Linked DNA regions of Homo sapiens: region 2 is linked to region 1. The links come from fine-mapping of genetic effects on plasma protein levels. A gene starts in region 1. The other region holds a variant in brackets. All regions are shown on one strand. Distances are from middle to middle. Region 1 holds the start of VMO1 (vitelline membrane outer layer 1 homolog). Region 2 holds the start of TM4SF5 (transmembrane 4 L six family member 5).

Evidence for each region. PIP is the chance, under the fine-mapping model, that this variant and not a neighbour inherited with it causes the effect. Protein levels are from antibody-based Olink assays in UK Biobank. Linkage for the fine-mapping came from a reference panel and not from the study's own genotypes, which makes the PIPs less certain.
Region 2: its variant is fine-mapped to the plasma level of the VMO1 protein (UK Biobank, PIP above 0.99).

The regions. Positions count from the first base shown.
Region 1 is chr17:4,780,034-4,791,502 of GRCh38, forward strand. It overlaps VMO1 (vitelline membrane outer layer 1 homolog), which reads right to left and starts at 6,331. Exons shown (of 3, transcript NM_182566.3): 1 at 6,125-6,331; 2 at 5,904-6,019; 3 at 5,252-5,626. The coding sequence starts at 6,319. The coding sequence ends at 5,329. It overlaps TM4SF5 (transmembrane 4 L six family member 5), which reads left to right. Exons shown (of 5, transcript NM_003963.3): 2 at 756-836; 3 at 2,470-2,606; 4 at 2,821-3,004; 5 at 3,081-3,178. The coding sequence ends at 3,095. GLTPD2 (glycolipid transfer protein domain containing 2) reads left to right here and starts at 8,931. Exons shown (of 4, transcript NM_001014985.3): 1 at 8,931-9,084; 2 at 9,193-9,257; 3 at 9,478-9,644; 4 at 9,726-10,556. The coding sequence starts at 8,979. The coding sequence ends at 10,263. RefSeq lists a silencer at 9,738-10,387 and an enhancer at 10,618-10,697.
Region 2 is chr17:4,760,981-4,771,899 of GRCh38, forward strand. TM4SF5 (transmembrane 4 L six family member 5) reads left to right here and starts at 10,906. Exons shown (of 5, transcript NM_003963.3): 1 at 10,906-10,919. RefSeq lists a silencer at 3,084-3,246. The variant T/C (reference allele first, on the strand shown) is at 7,291.

The DNA of each region.
Region 1 (11,469 bases):
TGAGTTACTCTGAGCTGGTCTTTTTTTTTTTTTTTTTTTGAGATGGAGTTTCGCTCTTATTGCCCGGGTTGGAGTACAGTGGCACGATCTCAGCTCACCACAACCTCCACCTCCCAGGTTCAAGTAATTCTCCTGCCTCAGCCCCCCGAGTAGCTGAGATTATAGGCATGCGCCACCACGCCCGGCTAATTTTGTATTTTTAGCAGAGTTGGGGTTTCTCCATGTTGGTCAGGCTGGTCTTGAACTTCCGACCTCAGGTGATCCACCAGCCTCAGCCTCTCAACATGCTGGGATTTCAGGCGTGAACCACCGCGCCCGGCCTCTGAGCCAGTCTTAACACCTAGTCAGCTTGTTCTCCCATTAAATCCTGAGAACAGACCTGTGAGGTAGATCTTCCAGACCCATTTTATACAGGCAAAACTGAGACCCTGAGAGATGAATCAATTCATAGCATGTGAAGTAGTTTCCCTGATTTCCATTCAGTAGGGCACCTACTATGTGCCAAGATTGGGGAAAATAATGATATTGGGCCCTACCCTCTAGAGGCCACAATCTGGACAGAGATAAGGTAGGCACGTAAATAAGGATAAAGTAAGGTGAAGCCCAGCAGCTCCAGGAGACGTAGAGATAAGGTCTTCTACAGTCCAAAGGGCTGAAGGCATCACAGGCAGCTTCCTGAAGGAGGTAGGCACTGATGCAAGTCAGGCCTGGAGGATCTGGGGGGACGTGCTATAACAATGACTCTTGTCCCACAGGTACTGTGTCCGGGGATTGCAGCCGTTCGGGCAGGGGGCAAGGGCTGCTGTGGTGCTGGGTGCTGTGGAAACCGCTGCAGGGTAAGATCCAGATTAAGAAGGAATTCAGGGCTGGGGGTGGTGTCTCATGCCTGTAATCCCAACACTTTAGCAGGCTGAGGTGGGAGTACGGCTTGAGCCAGGAGTTCTAGACCAGCCCAGGAAACATGGCAAGATCCCTATCTCTACTAACAATACAAAAATTAGCCGGGCGTGGTGGCAAGCACCTGCAATCTCGGCTACTTGGGAGGCTGAGGTGGGAGGGCCGCTTGAGCCCAGGAGGTCCAGGCTGCAGTAAGCAGTGATTTAAAAAAAAAAAAAAAAAAAAAAAAAGAAGAGAAAAGATACAGAAATTAGCCAGGCGTGGTGGCGGGCACCTGTAATCCCAGCTACTCAGGAGGCTGAGGCAGGAAAATCACTTGAACCCTGGAGGCAGAGGTTGCAATGGGCCGAGATCACACCATTGCACTCCAGCCTGGGCAACAAGAGTGAAACTCTGTCTCAAAAAAAAGAAAAGAAAAGATACAGAAATTAGCCTGGTGTGGTGGTGGGCGCCTGTAATCCCAGCTACTCAGGAGGCTGAGGCAGGAGATTACGGTGAGCCAAGATTGTGCCATTGCATTCCAGCCTGGGCAACAAGAGCAAAACTCCGCCTCAAAAAAAATGTATTTTTATTTTATTTTACATTTATTTATCTTATTTATTTTAGACATAGTCTTGGTCTGTCACCCAGGCTGGAGTACAGTGGCACGATCTTGGCTCACTGCAGCTTCCGCCTCCCTAGTTCAAGCCATTCTTGTTCTTCCAGCCTCCCAAGTAGCTGGGATTACAGGCGCCTGCCACCACACCCAGCTAATTTTTATATTTTTAGTAGAGACGGGGTTTCACTGTTGGCCAGAGTGGTCTGAAACTCCTGGCCTCAGGCGATCTGCCCCCCTTGGCCTCCCAAAGTGCTGGGATTACAGGTGTGAGATATCGTGCCCAGCCTCGAGTCAGGTTTAAAATAAATTTCCCTTCAAACCCCGGGCTTGCAGTTAGGCTAACCTGAAAGCCAGCGGCCGCCGAGATTCACTGGGGTTGTAGTTCCCCCCTCTCCCCTTCACCCGCCTACCCCTCAGGATCATTGAGATCTGAGATTTGTGGGTGCCAGGGAAGGGTGGGGTGGGGCCTGGGAGTCCGCAGAGGAGCTTGTGTAGCTAGGAATTCCATAGAGAGTGCTGTGGTTCTGCAAGGACAGGTGCAGAAACAGAGTCCGAATTTCTAATTTTTTTTTTTTTTTTTCTTTTTGAGACGGGGTCTGGCTCTGTCGCCCAGGCTGGAGTGCAGTGGTGCGATCTCGGCTCATTGCAACCTCCGCCTCCCATGTTCAAGCTATTCTCCTGCCTCAGCCTCGGGCATGTGCCACCACACCCGGCTAATTTTTGTATTTTCAGTAAAGACAAGGTTTCTCCATGTTGGCCAGGCTGGTCTTGAACTCTCGACCTCAGGAGATCCACCCGCCTCAGCCTCCCAAAGTGCTGAGATTACAGGGGTGAGCCACCGCGCCCGGCATTAAAAAATACATTTTAACAACCCGACTGGAGCAGATTTCGATAATGCGTGGGGGCTGGCGCTGAGCGTCGTCACCCACAGGTGGGGAGATTGGGCCTTACCTCCCCTTCCACACCACATCCAGATGCTGCGCTCGGTCTTCTCCTCGGCGTTCGGGGTGCTTGGTGCCATCTACTGCCTCTCGGTGTCTGGAGCTGGGCTCCGAAATGGACCCAGATGCTTAATGAACGGCGAGTGGGGCTACCACTTCGAAGACACCGCGTAAGGTTTAGCCTGTATTCGTGTCCTCCATTCTCTGCCTCTTCCCTCCCGCCCTTCCCCCGTGGACTGGGACACCTGGGCGGGACTCGACTTCGAGGGCACTCGCTCCACGTGGGCTACCTGGGCCTTAGCAAATCCCCTGGGACGTATTCTTGGGGGCGGGGTGGCGCACGCGCACGCTGCCTTCTCCCACGTGGCCTCACCCCTCCCACAGGGGAGCTTACTTGCTCAACCGCACTCTATGGGATCGGTGCGAGGCGCCCCCTCGCGTGGTCCCCTGGAATGTGACGCTCTTCTCGCTGCTGGTGGCCGCCTCCTGCCTGGAGATAGTACTGTGTGGGATCCAGCTGGTGAACGCGACCATTGGTGTCTTCTGCGGCGATTGCAGGAAAAAACAGGTGAAATTTCTTGCGGTGGAGTTGTAGAGGGAACCTGCCTGGTCCTGGCTGCGTTCTCACCTTCTCTTTTCCGCAGGACACACCTCACTGAGGCTCCACTGACCGCCGGGTTACACCTGCTCCTTCCTGGACGCTCACTCCCTTGCTCGCTAGAATAAACTGCTTTGCGCTCTCTTCTCTGTCTGAGATTGTGCCTTCTGTAAGGAGGAGTGTGCGAGAGGCTACGGATACACCTGGCCTTTGGGGCCCCTGCACCCCACTTGTACTTTCTTAACGAATAGATACTGAGCTATTTGGTTGCGCTGGAAATAAGGACGGTAAACAAGACAGACAAGTTTTATTCTCTCAAAGAACTTGGCATTCCAAGAGTGGAAGATAGGCAATTTTTAAAAGAAGCAAAAAATTATTTCAATAGGTAATAAGCACTTTTTTTTTTTTTTTTTGACAGGGTCTCGCTGTCACTCAGGCTGGAAGGCCGTGGTACGATCTCGGTTCACTGCATCCTCCACCTCCTGGGCTCAAGCAATCCTCCCGTCTCAGCCTCCCAAGTAGCTGGGACCATAGGCATATGCCACCATGCCTTGCTAACTTTTTTGTATTTTTTGTAGAGACGAGGTTGCCCAGGCTGGTCTCGAACTCCTGAGCAAAAGTAATCCTCCCACTTCAGGCTCCCAAAGTATTGGGATTACAGGCTTGAGCCACCGTGCGTGGCCGATAAGCACTTTTTAAAAGCATGTTGGTAATGGGATTGATATTGACTTATGGAGAGACTCTCTTTTATGACAGGGAAAATTTGAGAAAATGAAATTTGAGCTAAGATCAGGAAGGCTTGCTAACCATCTGGATATTTGGGGGATTATAGGCAGAGAGAACAGCAAGGACAAAGATCCTAAACAGGGATCAGTTCTGTAGGAGAAAATAATGAAAACTATGGAAAAGACACTGTAACCTCTTAAGCTCTAGAAAATGGAACTGTAAAGCCATTGTGGCCTTGTCACCTCCTAATTTGATAGAATTTTTTTTTTTTGCTTTTTTTGACAGGGTCTCACTTTGTCACTCAGGCTGGAGTGCAGTGGCACGATCTCGGCTCATTGCAGCCTCCACCTCCTGGGCTAAAGCAATCCTCCTGCCTCTGCCTCCTGAGTAGCTGGGACTACAGGCGCACACCACCATACCCCTGCTAATTTTTGTACTTTTTGTAGAGAGGGGATTTCACCATGTTGCCCAGGCTGGTCTCCAACTGCTGAGCTTAAACAATCCACCCACCTCAGCCTCCCAGAGTGCTGAGATTACAGCTGTGAGCCACCACATCTGGCCATAATTTGGTAGAATTTTCTTAATCTTAGGTCACTGGTTCAGAAAGGAGACAACCTAGGCACCTAATGGGGGCAGGGTGTCTGCAGACTCTCTCAGAAAGCCAGACTTCCTGGGCCCGCACGATGGTGCAAGCCGGTAATCCCAAAACTTTGGAAGGCTGAAGCCAGTGGATCACTTGAGGTCAGGAGTTTGAGACCAGCTTGGCCAACATGGGGAAACTCCATCTCTACTAAAAATACAAAAATTAGCTGGGCATGGTGGTGGGTACCAGTAGTCCCAACTACTCAGGAGGCTGAGGCAGAAGAATCGTTTGAACCCAGGAGGTGGAAGTTGCAGTGAGCCAAGATCATACCACTGCACTCCAGCCTGAGTGACAGAGTGAGACTCCAAAAAAAAAAAAAAAAAAAAAAGCCAGACTTCCATCACTTGTCTGAAAATTATCTGTTTAAGTGCGTTTTTCTCGAGTCCATAACTTTTCAGCAATCTACCATAGACCCCTGAGACCAAATCCAAATGTATGCCTCACCTAATGCTAAGTTAGGAGGGGAAAAGGAGACTCAGTTCCCCATCCCTTAAACAGGCGAGACCAGCCGGGCATGGTGTCTCACGCCTGTAATCCCAGCACTTTGGGAGGCCAAGGTGGGCGGATCATGAGGTCAGGAGATCGAGACCATCCTGGCTAACACGGTGAAACCCCGTCTCTACTAAAAATACAAAAAAAAAAAAAAAAAATTAGCCGGGCGTAGTGGCGGGCGCCTGTAGTCCCAGCTACTCGGGAGGCTGAGGCAGGAGAACGGCGTGAACCCGGGAGGCAGAGCTTGCAGTGAGCCGAGTGAGCCACTGCACTCCAGCCTGGGGGACAGAGCGATACTCCGTCTCAAATAAATAAATTAATAAATAAATAAATGAAATAAACAGGCGAGACCAAAGTCAACTCAGAGAAGCTTTAATAGCAAGAGGTGGGACTAGCCTCCTGGCCCGGGAGAGAGCGGCGGCGGCGGCGCCGTTCAACTGCGGCAGCAGAATAAGCGCGCGTCGTTCAGCGCAGTGTCATCGCCGAGGCCTCTAGGTCCCTGGATCTTGGTCTGCAGGCCGCACGCGCCCTTGGGGCAATGGTCACTCCAGTCTCCAAAGTCTCCCCAGCTCAGCCCAGGCCCCTGCAGTTCCTCGCCGTCTGAACAGCGGAAGCGCACGTTGTTCGCTGCTGTGTTGTCACCGAGGGTCGTGGGTGCCTCCACGCGAAGCGAGAAAGCCACTAGGTAGGCGCCGCCGCGACACCACAGCGGCTCACTCCATTCGCCCCAGCTGCAAGGCAAAGGGAGATGCGTTGCCTCTGCGGGCCCCCCATTCACCAAGCCCTTGAGACTTTCCAAGCCAAGTGCTGTGTATATGACCTGGTGGGCTGGGTGCTCCCCGACCTCCGCCGAGGAGCGGAGGAGGGGTCTTCCATCCACCCTTCGCCTCCCCGGTCTATACTGCCCCGTAGCTCTGGCGGAGCCAGCCTGCCTGTTGCGACGGAGTATGTAATAGAGGGTAAGGGACATACCATCACCCCAAGGGATCCTCGACCCCTGCGCCCCACCTTCCAGACTGGGACTCTACCACGTGCGTATTGCCTAGGACGTTCCCGCGCGCGCAGTGCAGCCTGATCCCATTCAGTGCAGTGTCGTCGCCAGGAATGCCTTGGGGAGGCTCCACCTGGGTATCGAGGAGAGGGGCAAGGGCGAGTCACGGAATTATCATCCTTGGCTCTATGGTCCCACGCATCTCCGCCCTCTCCAGGACCTACGCCTGAGCCCCAACCTTGAGCGAGAACCCGCTGGCGAAGAATCCATCGGGACACATCTCAGGCCAGGCCCAGTCGCCCCAGGGACCCCCGCTGGTCACTTCGATGACCGCCGTGTAGCCGTTCCGGCCATCTGTCTGTGCACATGTGAAACCAGTCGCCCGCAGAAGCAGCAGCAGCGGCAGCAGCTTGGCTCCTGCGCCCCGCTCCATCCTGTAGCGTCTGTGAATCAGGCCTCCTAAGCAGATTTATATCAGTTTGGCCTCTGTGAGGGCTCCGATTGCGGAAGGGCCTCCCAGATTAAGTGAAACCCAAAACTAATCCACTCCCGGAACCCTATTTCCTGCTCCCGGAGGCAGAGGCTCCCAGAGCTAGGGTAGGAGGGGCAGTGAGAGAGGGCGAATTAAAATAACCATCACCTACTGAATATTTACTATAGGCTACGAATTATGGTTAGCGCTTTGCAGTATTTTGTTTAACCCTCACAACAATTTTTGGGGGGTGAGAATTATCCTTCCTATTTTGTAGATGAGGGAACTGGCTCAAAAATGGCAAGCAACTTGCCTTAGGTTTACAGCCAAGCAAGCTGGGAAACATTCCAGCAGTGAGAGTGGAGACAGAGCAGAGACCAGGGCTAGGGATGGAAGTGACCTCCCGGGAGTCCCACCAGTGACGGGATGGGGCAAGAGCAACCCAGAGACCTCCAGGATGTGAGGGGACATCAGAGTGAGGATAGGACAAGAATCCTCGAACTGGAGAAGCTGAGAAAACTCCTGTCAGCTCAGAAGTCTCTTCCTCCTCTGAGAGGTCTTCTGAGAGCTCAGGGCCCTAACACCTTGAGAATCCGGGACACTCCTCCCTACCTTAGAAGAAGACATATACAAACAGAAATAATTCTTTTTTATTTTTATTTTTTGAGTCGAAGTCTCACTCTGTCGCCCAGTGGCGGCATCGCAGTGGCGCGATCTCGGCTCACTGCTACCTCCACCTCCTGGGTTCAAGCGATTCTCCTGCCTCAGCCTCCCGAGTAGCTGGGACTACAGGCGCGCGCCAAGACGCCGCCCCGCTAATTTTTGTATTTTTAGTAGAGACCGGGTTTCACCGTGTTGGCCAGGATGGTCTCTATCTCTTGACCTTGTGATCCGCCTGCCTCGGCCTCCCAAAGTGCTGGGATTACAGGCATGAGCCACCGCGCCCGGTCCAACAGGAATAACTCTAAGAAGTTTGGGGACAGGAGACTAAGAACCCCTAAGAAAAGATCATGCTGTTTCTTCCATTGCTTTCTGTATCCTTATATCCTTTCCTGGAATGCCTTTCCCCCTGTGACCACCAGATGGACTCCTAATTTGCAAAACAAAAAGCGAGAAAATCTGGCTAAGTATGTTTTTTGTTTGTTTGTTTGTTTGTTTGTTTTGAGACGAAGTCTCACTCTGTTGCCCAGGTTGGAGTGCAGTGACGCCATCTCGGCTCACTGCAACCTCTGCCTCCCGGGTTCAAGCGATTCTCTTCCCTTAACCTCCCGAGTAGCTGGGATTATAGGCGTTCGCCACCACGCCCGGCTAATTTGTATATTTTTAGTAGAGACGGGGTGTTGCCATGTTAGCCAGGCTGACCTCAGGTGATCCGCCCACCTCGGCCTCCCAAAGTGCTGGGATTACAGGCGTGAGCCACCGTGCCTGGCCTAAAAATGCCTGGCTAAATTTGTTAGGGGCCACAACCCCAGATTTACCTGCCCCTCATACACACTCCTTTGTTTATTCAATACCTATTTAGCAATAATATGTTTTGGCTTAAGCAATATTCCACTTGCTGTAAGCAAGAATAACAAGGCCCCTGTCATCAGAGGTCACATTCCAGTGGGGGAGACAGAGGATAAATTCTCCCCCAGTGGACCTTGAGCTCTGTGAAGGCACTTTTGTATTCTTGAAGCCTAGTACGTGCGGAAGTACTTAATAAAAGTTGGTGCAATGAATGATTGAAGAGCCAATCTGGAGTTTTGAAAATTAAACCACAAAAATGCAAAAGGATAAAGCCTGACGTACGTATATGATTGCAAGAGGTCATGTATCCAGGTCAAGACAAAGTCCCCTGGGAATAAGATAGAGAATTTAGAAGTGGGTGTTCCCGGCTGGGCGCGGTGGTTTACGCCTGTAATCCCAGCACTTTGGGAGGCCAAGTTGGGCGGATCACAAGGTCAGGAGTTCGAGACCAGCCTGTCCAGTATGGTGAAACCCTGTCTCTACTAAAAATGTAAAAATTAGCCGGCACTTTCCAGCCTGGGCGACAGAGCGAGACTTTGTCTCAAAAAACAAAAAAACAAAAAACAAACAAAAAAAAAAAGAGAGCGAGAGAGAAGTGGGTGTTCCCTGGATCCCAGAGCCGGACAATGCTTGAACTTAATAAGATTTATAGGGCAATTGTGGTCAGCTTTTCCATTTAGTGTTTTCACATACGTTATCATTTAATCCTCACATGAGGCTTGCAAAGTACCTATTATTATCCTCAATTTACAGTGGAGGGAACTCAAGCCCAGAGTGAATTTAGGGCCCACACCACTGCTCAGTAGGGGAGCTGTTCTGGGCCCTGCCTCTCTTCCCAATACTCAGAGTGCCTCTTGCTACAGCTGGCCCTACAGGGAAGGGAAATGCACTGATCTGTCACTGCTGTCGAATCCCCCAAATTCCCTTCACCCAGTTCCTCGCACCCAGGGTAGCTGCCCTTTGGGGCGAAGGGCACAGGGGAAGGGGCCTTAGTAGGTTAATTATTAATCCTTTGCGCCTCAGGGCACCACGGGCTTCTGTCCCCTCCTGGAGGCGGAGGGACACGGACTGGCTAGGCGCTGGTGAGGGGGCGGCGGTCCCAGCAGCAGGCATGGGAGTGGCGGCGCGGCCCCCAGCCCTGCGGCACTGGTTCAGCCACTCAATTCCTCTCGCTATCTTCGCGCTGCTGCTGCTTTATCTCAGTGTTCGGAGCCTAGGTGAGCTGCCCCTTCCCTCACTTGCTCCGGGAGGAAGCCCGGAATCCAGGCCCTCACGACTCAAGCCTCTTTCTCGAGCCCTCACCGCTCCGCTTCTCCTCTACCCAGGCGCCCGCTCGGGCTGCGGACCCAGGGCGCAGCCCTGCGTTCCAGGGGAAACGGCGCCCTTCCAGGTACGCTAGGCGCAGGATTGGGCGCGGGCGCTCCAGGAGGGACCAGAACAGGGGGACGTGGAGCCAGGCTGAGGGTCCGGCAAAGGGCGGGTCCTCCCCCGGTCTACCCTCTCCCGTCGGAAGCTGAGCGCACAGCAGAAGAGCCGCCAGCTAAACCTTCGGAACAATTTCTTCAGGGCAGAATCTGCTCCCACCTCTTCCCATCGTGTCTCCCCACCAGGTCCGGCAGGAGTCGGGAACCCTGGAGGCCCCGGAGAGGAAACAGCCTCCGTGTCTGGGCCCTCGGGGGATGCTGGGCCGCATGATGAGGCGGTTCCACGCCAGTCTGAAACCCGAAGGGGATGTGGGGCTGTCGCCGTACCTGGCGGGATGGAGGGCACTCGTCGAGTGAGTGGCCTCCCGCCCCCCAGCCGGTCCCCGCCTCCTTGGCGGCTCCATCTCCATTCTCTCAAATCGTCTCGCCCGCAGGTTCCTGACTCCCCTCGGCTCCGTCTTCGCCTTCGCCACTAGGGAGGCCTTCACCAAGGTGACAGACCTGGAGGCTCGGGTGCACGGCCCGGACGCGGAGCACTACTGGTCGCTGGTGGCCATGGCGGCGTGGGAGCGGAGGGCGGGACTGCTGGAGCAGCCGGGGGCGGCCCCCCGGGACCCGACCCGGAGCTCGGGCTCTCGCACGCTGCTCCTGCTGCACCGCGCGCTGCGCTGGTCCCAGCTCTGCCTCCACCGGGTGGCGACCGGCGCGCTGGGAGGCCCGGACGCGGGCGTGCAGTGCAGCGACGCCTACCGTGCGGCCCTGGGTCCGCATCACCCCTGGCTGGTCCGACAGACCGCCCGCCTCGCCTTCCTCGCCTTCCCGGGTCGCCGCCGCCTGCTGGAGCTGGCGTGTCCCGGAGCCACCGAGGCGGAGGCGCGGGCCGCGCTGGTCCGGGCCGCCGGCACCTTGGAGGATGTCTACAACCGCACCCAGAGCCTGCTGGCCGAGCGCGGCCTGCTCCAGCTGGCCTAAGACGGCGGCTGCGGGGACCGGCGGGAACGGAGCGGACCGCCCGGGGTGGGGCCGCGCAGCCCGGGGTCAGTCCTGCAGCCCGCGCCGCGGCCGCCTCCGTATCCCGCCTCTTCCGTGACGTCGCCGCGGCGAGGGCCGCCCCCGGCAGGGAATGGCGTTGAGCTCCCTCTGTCCGCAGTCTCGGAAAGACGGGAGGAGCTGTGAGGAATAAAAAAGCAATATTTGGCAGCGTCGACGTAGGGCGTTTTGTGTGATGACGACAGGCGCTTAAGGGAAATAAAAAACGAAGGTGAGAAGATGTGTCATCTCTGTTCTCGGCAGCCGAGAGACTCACGCTCCCCCGGCCTATCGTAGTCACTCCCGTGGCTTCGGTTGCCAAACACACGCTGAGTCTCCAGCCCAGACTTGTCCCTGAGCTTCACCCCTGTGCAGCCAAGTGACTCCACGGCCACTCCCACAATGAACATGAAAGATCTTGCCATTTCATACACTGATAACTTCCAAATCACAACTTCAATCCACTTTCTCCTGGACTCCAGAATCCTACATATACGATTGCCTATTCGGTATTTCCACTTGGATGTCACCTAGGCATAGCAAACCTACCATGTCCAACACTAAGCTCCAACACGCCCTCCCCACGAAAATTCTCCCTTCATAGTCTTTGCTGGCTCAAATGACACTTCATTCTTCCAGGTCCTCAGACCAAAAACCTCGTCATCCAGACCCTTCTGGGTTGTTTTTTCGTTTTGGTTTGGTTTTCTTTCTTTTTTTTTTTTTTTTTTCTGAGACAGAGTTTCTCTCTTGTTACCCAGGCTGGAGTGCAATGGCGCGATCTTGGCTCACCGCAACCTCCACCTCCCGGGTTCAAGCAATTCTCCTGCCTCAGCCTCCCAAGTAGCTGGGATTACAGGCATGCACCACCACACCAGGCTACTTTTTGTATTTTTAGTAGAGACAGGCTGTCTACGTGTTGGTCAGGCTGGTCTTGAATTCCCGACCTCAGGTTATCCGCCCGCCTCGGCCTCCCAAAGTGCAGGGATTACAGGTGTGAGGCACTGCGCCCAGCCCCAGCCCTTCTGTTTCTCTTTCATCATATCAGCATCCAATCTGTGAAAATCTGAGCAGTGCCCACTTTCTCCACTCCTAGTACCTTTGACTATGAAGGGAGACTATATCCTAGATTACTGCACTAGCCTCCTCATT
Region 2 (10,919 bases), 19 kb before region 1:
TTAGAATCAGTTTGTAAATATCCATGAAATGGTTTTCTGGCATTTTGATTGGGATTGTGTTGAAGATACAGATCAATTTGGAAAGAACTGACATCTTGACAATGTTGAGTGTTCCTATATATGAACATGGACTCTCTCCATTTATTTATATCTTCTTCGATGTCTTTCATCAGAGTTTTGTAGTTTTCTTCATGTAGATCTTATACGTATTTTGTTAGATTTATATGTAAGTATTTAATTTGGGACAGTGCTAATGTAATTGGTACTGTGTGTTATTTGAAGACATTATAAACAGCAATTCAACTCAAGAAGTGTAGTACCAGTAGGGTTCACAACTCAGCTGAGGTGATAACAATACGAACAGCTACGACTGGGTTCTCACAAGTGTAGGCAAAACCTACCATGTTGTATGACACCATGGATTGTACAATATATCCTAATTTTGGGAAAAATAAAATGTGCTAAAACACGTGACTTAGAATTGATTGGCCAGGTGCAGTGGCTCACACCTGTAATCCCAGCACTTTGGGAGGCCGAGGCGGGCAGATCACTGGAGGCCAGAAGTTCGAGACCAGCCTGGCCAACATGGTGAAACCCCATCTCTACTAAAAATACAAAAAATTAGCCAGGCGTGGTGACACATGGCTGTAGTCCCAACTACTCAGGAGGCTGAGGTTTTAGTGAGCCAAGATCACACCACTGCTGTACTATAGCCTGCGTGACAGAGTAAGATTCTGTATCAAAAAAAAAATTTGAAATATGCTAAATATTTAACAAATAGGCCAAGCAGGTGGCTCACACCTGTAATCACAACACTTTGGGAGACCGAGGTGGGTGTATCACCTGAGGTCAGGAGTTCGAGACCAGCCTGACCAACACGATGAAACCCCATCTCTACTAAAAATACAAAAAATTAGCTGGGCTTGGTGATGCGCGCCTGTAATCCCAGCTACTTGGGAGGCTGAGGCAGGAGAATCACTTGAATTCGGGAGGTGGAGGTTGCAGTGAGCCCAGATTGCACCACTGCACTCCAGCCTGGGAGTGAGACTCTGTCTCAAAAAAAAAAAAAGAAAAGAAAAGAAATAAACGTCACTGACTCAATTTCACAGTATTCTCATAACCAATTTAAAGTCTAGAAACCACTGGAAAATTTTCCATTTTTCCCAGTTTATATCCTAGGAGAAAGCAAATCTAATTGGCCTGGACACTCAGCTTATGGTACAGTTTACAAATTTCTGGTAACTTCCACTGCTTTAAACGAAGACTGAAATTACCAATGTCTCAAATAGAGTAGAAGTTTATTTCTTGCTCACAAAATAGTAACGAGGCTGCCGGGCCCGGTGCTTCACGCCTGTAATCCCAGCACTTTTTGGGAGGCCGAGGGGAGTGGGTCATTTGAGGTCAGGAGTTCGAGACCAGCCTGGCCAACATGGTGAAACCCCGTCTCTACTAAAAATACACAAATTAGCCAGGTGTGGTGGTGCCCACCTGCAATCCCAGCTAGTTGGGAGGCTGAGGCAGGAGAATTGCTTGAACCCAGGAGGCAGAGATTGCAGTGAGCCAAGGTCGCACCACTGCACTCCAGCCTGGGCAACAGAGCGAGACTCCGTCTCACAAAATAAATAAATAAATAAATAGTAAGGAGGCAGGTGGCCCACAGCGGCACTCCTGCTCTTCTAGGTTGTTCGGGAGCCCAGAATCCTGATATTGTTGTTCCACCATCTCTAAGGGTTGTCCTCACCAAAGAGTCCAAACGGTTCAACTCCTGGCCTACATTCCAGCCAGCAGGATGAGGAAAGGGAAGCTCATTCCTTAAAGTCTACCACCAAAGTTGATTGTTGCAGCCATTAAAAAAGAACAAATTCATGTCCTTTGCAGCAATATGGATACAGCTGGAGGCCATTATTCTAAGCCAATTAACACACGAACTGAAAACCAAATATTGCATGTTCTCACTTACAAGTGGGAGCTAAGCACTGGGTGCACATGGACATAAGGATGTAAACAATTGACACTGGGGCCTCCAGAGGGGAAGGGAGAGAGTGGGGAAAGGGTTGAAAAAACTACTGGGTTCTGGCCGGGTGCGGTGGCTCATGCCTGTAATCCCAGCACTTTGGGAGGCTGAGGCGGGTGGATCACCTGAGGTCAGGAGTTTGAGACCAGCCTAGTCAACATGGTGAAACGCCATCTCTACTAAAAATACCAAAATTAGTCAGATGTGGTGGCATGCGCCTGTAATCTCAGCTACTTGGGAGGCTGAGGCAGGAGAATCGCTTGAACCCAGGAGGCCGAGGTTGCAGTGAGCCGAGATCGTGCCACTGCACTCCAGCCTGGGTGACAAAGTGAGACGCTGTCTCAAAAAAACAAAAAACCAAAAAAACTACTGGGTCCTATGCTCAGTACCTGGGTGACAGGATTAATCATGTTCCTAAACCTCAACATCACACAATATACCCTTATGACAAACCTGCACATGTACCCCCAAATCTAAAATAAAAGCTGAAATTATAAATAAATTGAATACTTTGTTGTGGGGATCTCATAAAACTTACAGAAAACATCTGCATTATGCCTTAAAACCAACATTGCAGTAAGGTAAGATCAACTAGCAGCATTCTCACAAAAAGGAAACAAAGTTGATCAAATCATTTACACTCCTTCCCATAAGCCATAACTATGTGACAACGCATGGCCACAGCTACAAAAGAAGTTAGAAAAAATAGGGTTTTTTTGTTGTTGTTGTTGTTTTGACACGGGGTCTCGCTCTGTCGCCCAGGCTAGAGTGCATGCAGTGGCATGATCTCAGCTCATTGCAACCTCCGCCTCCCAGGTTCAAGCGATTCTCCTGCCTCAGCCTCCGGAGTAGCTGGGATTACAGGCATGTGCCACTACGCCCGGCTAATTTTGTATTTTTATAGAGATGGGGTTTCTCCATATTGGTCAGGCTGGCCTCAAACTCCCAACCTCAGGTGATCCACCTGCCTTGGCCTCCCAAAGTGCTGGGATTACAGACGTGAGACACCACGCCTGGCTAATTTTTGTATTTTTAGTAGAGATGAGGTTTCACCATGTTGGCCAGGCTGGTCTCAAACTCCTGACCTCAGGTGATCCACCCGCCTCAGCCTCCCGAAGTGCTGGGATTACAGGCGTGAGCCACCGGGCTTGGCCGAAAATATAGTCTCTAGCTTAGCAGCCATGTGCCTTTAGCAGCAGACTACAAAGTCTGCTACTATAATAAAAGCAGAAGACTGGGACTAACTCACTATCTCTGTCACATACTAGGTCAAGCATGTGCTACTCAGCTATGGGCAGTGAGTACGGAGCCACAGAGTTTAGACAGATTCCCTGGAGAGGATATTCGCTGGATGCCTCCCCATCATTCATTCTGTCTTTCCTCCTTCCTAATACTGCCCTTAATTTCCCAGCCTGGTGGCTTAGACAGAATTGACAACACCCCCTGTGCTGGAATGCCTCCATGTGAAGAAGGACATGTTTGCTTCCCCTTCCGCCATGATTGTAAGTTTCCTAAGGCCTCCCCAGCCATGCTAAACTGTGAGTCAATTAAACCTCTTTCCTCTATAAAGTACCAGTCTCGGGTATGTCTTTATTAGCAGCGTGAGAACAGACTCATACAGCATGTTCTACCCTCTGGCCACAGTGATCCGTGTAAGGGACAGACATAGAACCCAGTCTGCACCAAGGAGAAATTTTCTGGGGTAAATGGGAAAGAAACTTCCTCTCTACTCAGGGAAAGCTATGCGAGGAGATTCTCTTCCTCCTGGTGGTAGGGTGTAAAGACATAAGGTCTGAACTGCTGCAGCTAATACTACTGTCAGGAGGAAGATCCCACTTAAGGAGGAAGTCAAAGCCAAAAAAAGGAACAGCAGAGAGAATGGCAGAGAAACAAGAACACTGATGACATCCTGAACTTCTGGACCAAACTGCACCTGCAGTTAGTCCTACTTCAGTCCTACTGGATGTTTTGATTGCTTGAACCAATAAATTCCCTTTTTGTTGCAATAGAGTTGGGTTTTCTGTTACCTGGTATAGTTCCTTACAATGGACCCAGAGTATGGCAAGCAATAATGACATATTTAATAGTATTAATATCATTTTTAGAATTTACATTATACAGCTGCCCTTTAAAAGAATTTTTTTTTTTTTTTTTTTTTTTGAGACAGAGTTTTGCTCTTGCCCAGGCTGGAGTGCAATGGCGCGATCTTGGCTCACTGCAATCTCCACCTCCCAGGTTCAAGCGATTCTCCTGCCTCAGCCTTCCCAAGTAGCTGGGATTACAGGCATGCGCTACCAAGTCCAGCTAATTTTGTATTTTTAGTAGAGATGGGGTTTCTCCATGTGGGTCCGGCTGGTCTCAAACTCCCGACCTCAGGTGAGCCGCCTACCTCGGCCTCCCAAAGTGCTGGGATTACAGGCGTGAGCCACCACGCCCGGCCACTTCAAAAGAAATTTTTACGGGGCTAGGTGCAGTGGCTCACGCCTGTAATCCCAACACTTTGGGAAGCCTATGTGTGCAGATTTCTTGAGCCCAGGAGTTCAAGACCACTTGGGCAACAAAATGAAACCCCATTTCTACAAAAAATACAAAATGATGGCTGGGCTCGGTGGCTCACACTTGTAATCCCAGCACTTTCGGAGGCCGAAGTGGGCGGATCACCTGAGGTCGGGAGTTTGAGACCAGCCTGACCAACATGGAGAAACCCTGTCTCTACTAAAAATACAAAATTAGCCGGGCGTGGTGGCACATGCCTGTAATCCTAGCTACTAGGGAGGCTGAGGCAGGAGAATCGCTTGAACCTGGGAGGCAGAAGTTGCAGTAAGCTGAGATTGCGCCATTGCACTCCAGCCTGGGCAACAAGAGTGAAACTCTGTCTCAAAAAAAATATATATATATATATTTACATATATACACACAAAAAGATTAGACAAGCATGGTGGGTGGTGAACATCTGTAGTCCCAGTTACTTGGCAGGCTGAGGCAGGACGATCACTTGAGCCCAGGAGATAGAGTTTGCAGTGAGCCAAGATCATGCCACTGCACACCAGTCTGGACAACAGAGTGAGACACTGTCTTTAAAAAAAAATGAGACTGGGCACAATGGCTCTGGCCGGGTTGTGGTGGCTCATACCTGTAATCCCAGCACTTTGGGAGGCCAAGACAGGTGGATCACTTGAGGTCAGGAGTTCAAGACCACCCTCCAACATGGTGAAACTTAGTCTCTACTAAAAATATAAAAATTAGCCAGGCCTGGTGGCCCATGCTTGTAATCCCAGCTACTTGGGGGGCTAAGGCAGGAGAATCGCTTGAACTCAGAAGGCTGAGGTTGCAGAGTCAAGATGACGCCACTGCACTCCAGCCTGCATGACAGAGCAAGACTCTGACTCAAAACAAAAGAGAAGAAAAATATTTTTTTCCAAAATGTGCATCCAGTTTTGTAACCAGATATATGAAATTTATTTAGACTTACGTCAAGACTTCCCCATTTTGGGGTTTTTATTTTACTTCATCTCTTGGTGAGTCAACACAATTTCTCTAAAAAAAAGGAGCCAAAGTGTTATTTTGAAATCCAAACATTCTCAGAAATGCAATTGTGTTGCCCTTAACATACAAAATGCAACTTAGACATGTATATGATAGTTCTACCTTTTTTGGTGGACACAGCTGCCTTACTCCTTTGTCCTCTGACATTCAGTATTTCAGAGAAGACTCTGGCCACACCAACTATTGTTTCTTTCTAAGTAGCCTTTTTAAATTCTGCCTAGATGTATCCTTTAATTCAGATATTTTGTCAGGATGAATCTATGGTCAGCTGACTTTTAATATTTTACCTGCCGTGCAGTATAACTTTCAACCCACTGACCTGAGTGGATCTATCTGCGCTCAGTGACGTCTTCTCCTAGTGCAGATGTTTTAACTGTGGTGTCACTTCCACCAGTTCTATTCTTGTTCTTAGGAGAAGCCAGTTTCCTGAATTTTTTTTTTTTTTTTTTTGAGCCAGAGTCTCACTCTGTCACCCAGGCTGAAGCGCAATGGCGTGATCTTGGCTCACTGCAATCTCCACCTCCCGGGTTCAAGCGATTCTCCTGCCTAAACCTCCTGAGTAGCGGGGATTACAGGCACCCGCCACCATGCCCAGCTAATTTTTGTATTTTTAGTAGAGACGGGGTTTCCCCATGTTGGTCAGGCTGGTCTCGAATTCCTGACCTCAGGTGATCTGCCCGCCTCGGCCTCCCAAAGTGCTGGGATTACAAGCGTGACCCACTGAGCCTGGACCTTTTTTTTTTTTTTTTTTTTGAGATGGAGTCTTGCTCTGTTGCCCATACTGGGGTGCAATGGTGCGATCTCGGCTCACTGCAACCCCCACCTCCCGGGTTCAAGCGATTCTCCTGCCTCAGCCTCCTGAGTAGCTGGGATTACAGGTGCCTGCCATCACACTTGTCTAATTTTTGTATTTTTTGTGAAGATGGGGTTTCGCCATGTTGGCCAGGCTGGTCTCAAACTCCTGACCTCAGGTGATTCACCGAGCTTGGCCTCCCAAAGTGCTGGGATTACAGGCGTGAGCCACCGCGCCCGGCCAGCCTTTTCTTTCTTAAGTTATTCTGTTCCTAGTTCCAGGAGAATTCTAGTGATGTCATCAAAAATCTTCCTGGAAATCTCTTCCAAATCCTATAGTAAATGTTCCTCCAGAGGATTCTGTTTCTTTCAGTCTTCAGGTTGATTTGCCCTTCCCTGGTTTTGAGAAAATTTTTCAGAATCCCTATAATGTTTTGTTAACATTATTAACATTATTTCATTCATCCAGAATTGTATAAAAATAATGTAATGAATGCCTGTGGACCACCCCACCCACACAACTATTTTTTTTCTCTTTATTCATCCTCAAAACAGACACCATTTGGCTGGCCGCAGTGGCTCACACCTGTAATCCCAGCATTTTGGGAGACCGAGGTGGGTGGATCACCTGAGATCAGGAGTTCGAGAGCAGCCTGGCCAACATGGAGAAACCCTGTCTTCATCTCCACAAAAAATACAAAAATGAGCCAAGCGTGGTGGCGGGCACCTGTAATCCCAACTACTTGAGTCTCCTGAACCCGGGAGGCGGAGGTGGCGGTGAGCCGAGATCACGCCACTGCACTGCAGCCTGGGCAATAAGAGTGAAACTCTGTTTAAAAAAAAATAAAAAAGAGGCACCATCTCTCAGAATCAGCTTGAGCAACTTGTAGACAAATAGGTGGCCAGCTCTTGGCCCTGCTCTCTGTCCATCAGATCAA[T/C]GGCTGAATCCCCTCTTCAGGTCCACGGTTGGAAGGGCCACTATTCGGGATATGACAGTTGCTCTGGTAGTTCAACATTAGTGCTGGTGACAACCTCTCATCGGCCACCTCCTGAGGAACCAGAGTTTTCCAGTGCCTGTGCTTCTCCCTCTGGCGCTGTTTCAGAGTAACTATTCTCCATACACTTCTCTTGCTGTGACTTCTGCTTATTTCTGGTGTCAGTTGCCTCTGGCTTTTGATTGCTTCTTTCTTGCATACAACTCTCAGTTTGAAGCCACCCCACTCTCTGATGACTGTCTCAGCTTGTCTCACAGACACATTTCCCAATCATGAAGATCCAGTCGGTGGATTGGTCATTATCCAGTCAGTGTACCTCTGTTGGATGGAGTTCTCACCTCGAGAGACCTCACAGGTCGCTGGCTACATGTCTGCCTTTGGGTCAGCTACTTGTTCCTCAATCAACCAGCCCTGGCCTAGATAAGGGGGTCTGTGTTAGGAACTTGTTACTGGGCAACAAACCATCCCCCTCGACGAAGTCTTAGTGTCAAATAAATATAAGCATTTATTTCACTGATACACACATAGGAGTTGGCTGGGGGTCAGGTGATCTAGGGTGGGATCCAATGTGACCCTTTTCCTTGTATCTTTTTTTTTTTTTTCTAGATGGAGTCTTCCTCTGTCACCCAGGCTGGAGTCCAGTGGTGCAATCTCGGCTCACTGCAACCTCCATCTCCCGGGTTCAAGCAATTCTCCTGCCTCAGCCTCCCGACTAGCTGGGATTACAGGTGCCTGCCACCACACCCAGCTAATTTTTTTTGTATTTTTAGTAGAGACAGGGTTTCACCACGGTAGCCAGGATGGTCTCGATCTCCTGACCTCATGATCTGCCCACCTTGTCCTCCCAAAGTGCTGGGATTACAGGCGTGAGCTACTGCGCCCGGCCAAAAGAAATTTTTTAAATTAGTTGAGTGTGGTGGTGTGGGCCTGTAATCCTGGCTACTAAGGAAGCTGAAGTGGGAAGACAGCTTGAGCTAGGAGGTCATAGCTGCAGCGAGCCATGATTATCTTACCATGGCACTCTAGTCTGAGTGACAGAGACCCTGTCTCAAAAAAAAAAAAAAAAGGATAATGTAAAATCTTTAAAGAAAAGGGACAGAGGCTGGGCGCAGTGGTTCATGCCTGTAATCCCAGCGTTTTCGGAGGCCGAGGCGGGGATCATCTGAGGTCGGGAGTTCGAGACTAGCCTGGCCAACATGGAGAAACCCCGTCTCTACTAAAAATACAAAATTAGCTGGGCGTGGTGTCGCATGCCTATAATCCCAGCTACTCGGGAGGCTGAGGCAGGAGAATTGCTTGAACTTGGGAGGTGGAGGTTGCAGTGAGCCATGATCGCACCACTGCACTCCAGCCTGGGCAACAAGAGCAAAACTCTGTCTCAAAAAACAAAAAAGAAGAGGAACAGAAAACATCAGAAGCAATATGGAAATGTTGTTTAAAGCATTAAACATGCCAACAGAAGCAAAACCAAATGTATCAGTCATCATAATTACCTATGAGTCAGAGACAAATAGTTGGGGAGGTTCAAAGTATTTTCTTTTTCAGGCATCCTCTGATTCAAGAGGTAAATTCTCCATGTATTTTTCTCAATCCAGTTCCTCTGTCTTATAAATAGCAGAGATTCTGGCTTTTCTCCATTTTCCACATTTCTGTAGTGGTCTGAGTGGGCCGCAAGGAGGGGCTGCATCAGGGGCCACTGGCTGGTGACACTTTCCAGGTGACAGCCTCATTGCATACCCTCTGAAGCCCTGCAGCCCTTCCTGCTACCCTCATCTCTTCATGGCACTCCCACATCCTACTTGAGCTAGGGCTCATTCTGTGGGGGCCTTCACTCTCCTGTTTGCTTCTGAGACCCAGGAGGCAGAGGTTGCAGTGAGCCGAGATCACACCACTAAACTCCAGCCTGGGTGACAGAGCAAGACTCCATCTCAAAAAAAAAACAACAAAAAACCATTAGCCAGGTGTGGTGGCACACACCTATAGTCCTAGCTACTCGGGAGGCTGAGGTGGGAGGATCACTTGAGCCCAGGTGGTCAGGGCTGCAGGGAGCCATGATCCACTCCACACCAGCCTGGGCAACAAAGGGAGACCCTGGTCTCAAAAACATTTTTTTAATTAAAAAAAAAAGAAGTCGACTGGGTGGCTTGGCTCATGCTTGTAATCCCAGCACTTTGGGAGGCTGAGGCAGGTGGATCATTTGAGGTGAGGAGTTTGAGACCAGCCTGGCCAACATGGTGAAACCCCGTCTCTACTAAAAATACAAAAATTAGCTGGGTGTGGTGGTGGGCGCCTGTAATCCCAGCTACTTGGGAGGCTGAGGCAGGAGAATCGCTTGAACCCAGGAGGCGGAGGTTGCAGTGAGCCAAGATCACGCCACTGCTCTCCAGCCTGGGCGGCAGAGTGAGACTCCGTCTCAAAAAAAAAAGAAGTTATCAAGGAAACTGCAGCACCCCAACAAAAACAGAACTTCTTTGACCTCAGAATGGAAAAATGGCAGAAGCTGATTCTCACAGAGTTGGCTCAGATCGCATGGCTGTTGCTAAATCAAACACCGAGGCTAGCAGGATAGAACGCTCTCATCAATGAGGCCTAGGTCCCGAGCCCACCCTGAGAGACAGGCAGTGGCCTCAAGAGGAGGAGACATCAATAATCAAATACCAGGAAGACGAAATGCAAGGACAATAAGAGCCCACAATCACCTCTTTAATTTCTCCCTGGGAAGAATGCTGCCTGAGAGGCTGGCAGAAACGAAGAGGCCACCACACATCTGCTCTGTGCTTCCTAGTTTACAAAATACTTCTCAGGTTGTCCCATTTAATCCTCACAAGTAGCCCACAAGGCAAGTGGCATCACTTATTTATTTATCTATTTATTTATTTATTTATTTATTTACTTTTTGAGACAGAGTTTCATTCTTGTCACTTTATTTACTTATTTATTTATTTTTCGAGACAGAGTTTCACTCTTGTCACCCAGGCTGGAGTGCAATGGCACAATCTCAGCTCACTGCAACCTCCACCTTCCAGGTTCAAGTGATCCTCCTGCTTCAGCCTCTCGAATAGCTGGGATTACAGGTGCCCGCCACCATGCACAGATAACTTTTGCATTTTTAGTAGTGACGGGGTTTCACCACGTTGGCCAGGCTGGTCTCAAACTCCTGACCTCAGGTGATCCACCCTCCTCGGCCTCCCAAAGTGCTGGGATTACAGGTGTGAGCCACCGTGCCCAGACACAAGTGGCAACTGAGACTTAAGAGACATGAAGGGGCTTGGCTAAGTTGCAAAGCAGGTATGGAACCAACAGAGGGGCTGTGGAGCTGTGCAGAAAAAACAGGAAGGCACTAACCCAGGGTAATGTGTCCATAGCCCCCACCTTGTCCAGCACCACATCCTCCCTTCACCTCAGGGCTGCAGCTCCTCCGCCTCTGCCTCCTCAGGGCCCACATCCTGTGCCTCTCTCCCTTATCATTCTGATCCTGCCAGTTTCTGCCACGCCTCTGTCTGAACTTTGCTCCGTGCTCCAGGCTTGTTTTCCTCTGGACCTGGGAACCACTGGCTTACTTTCACTCACCG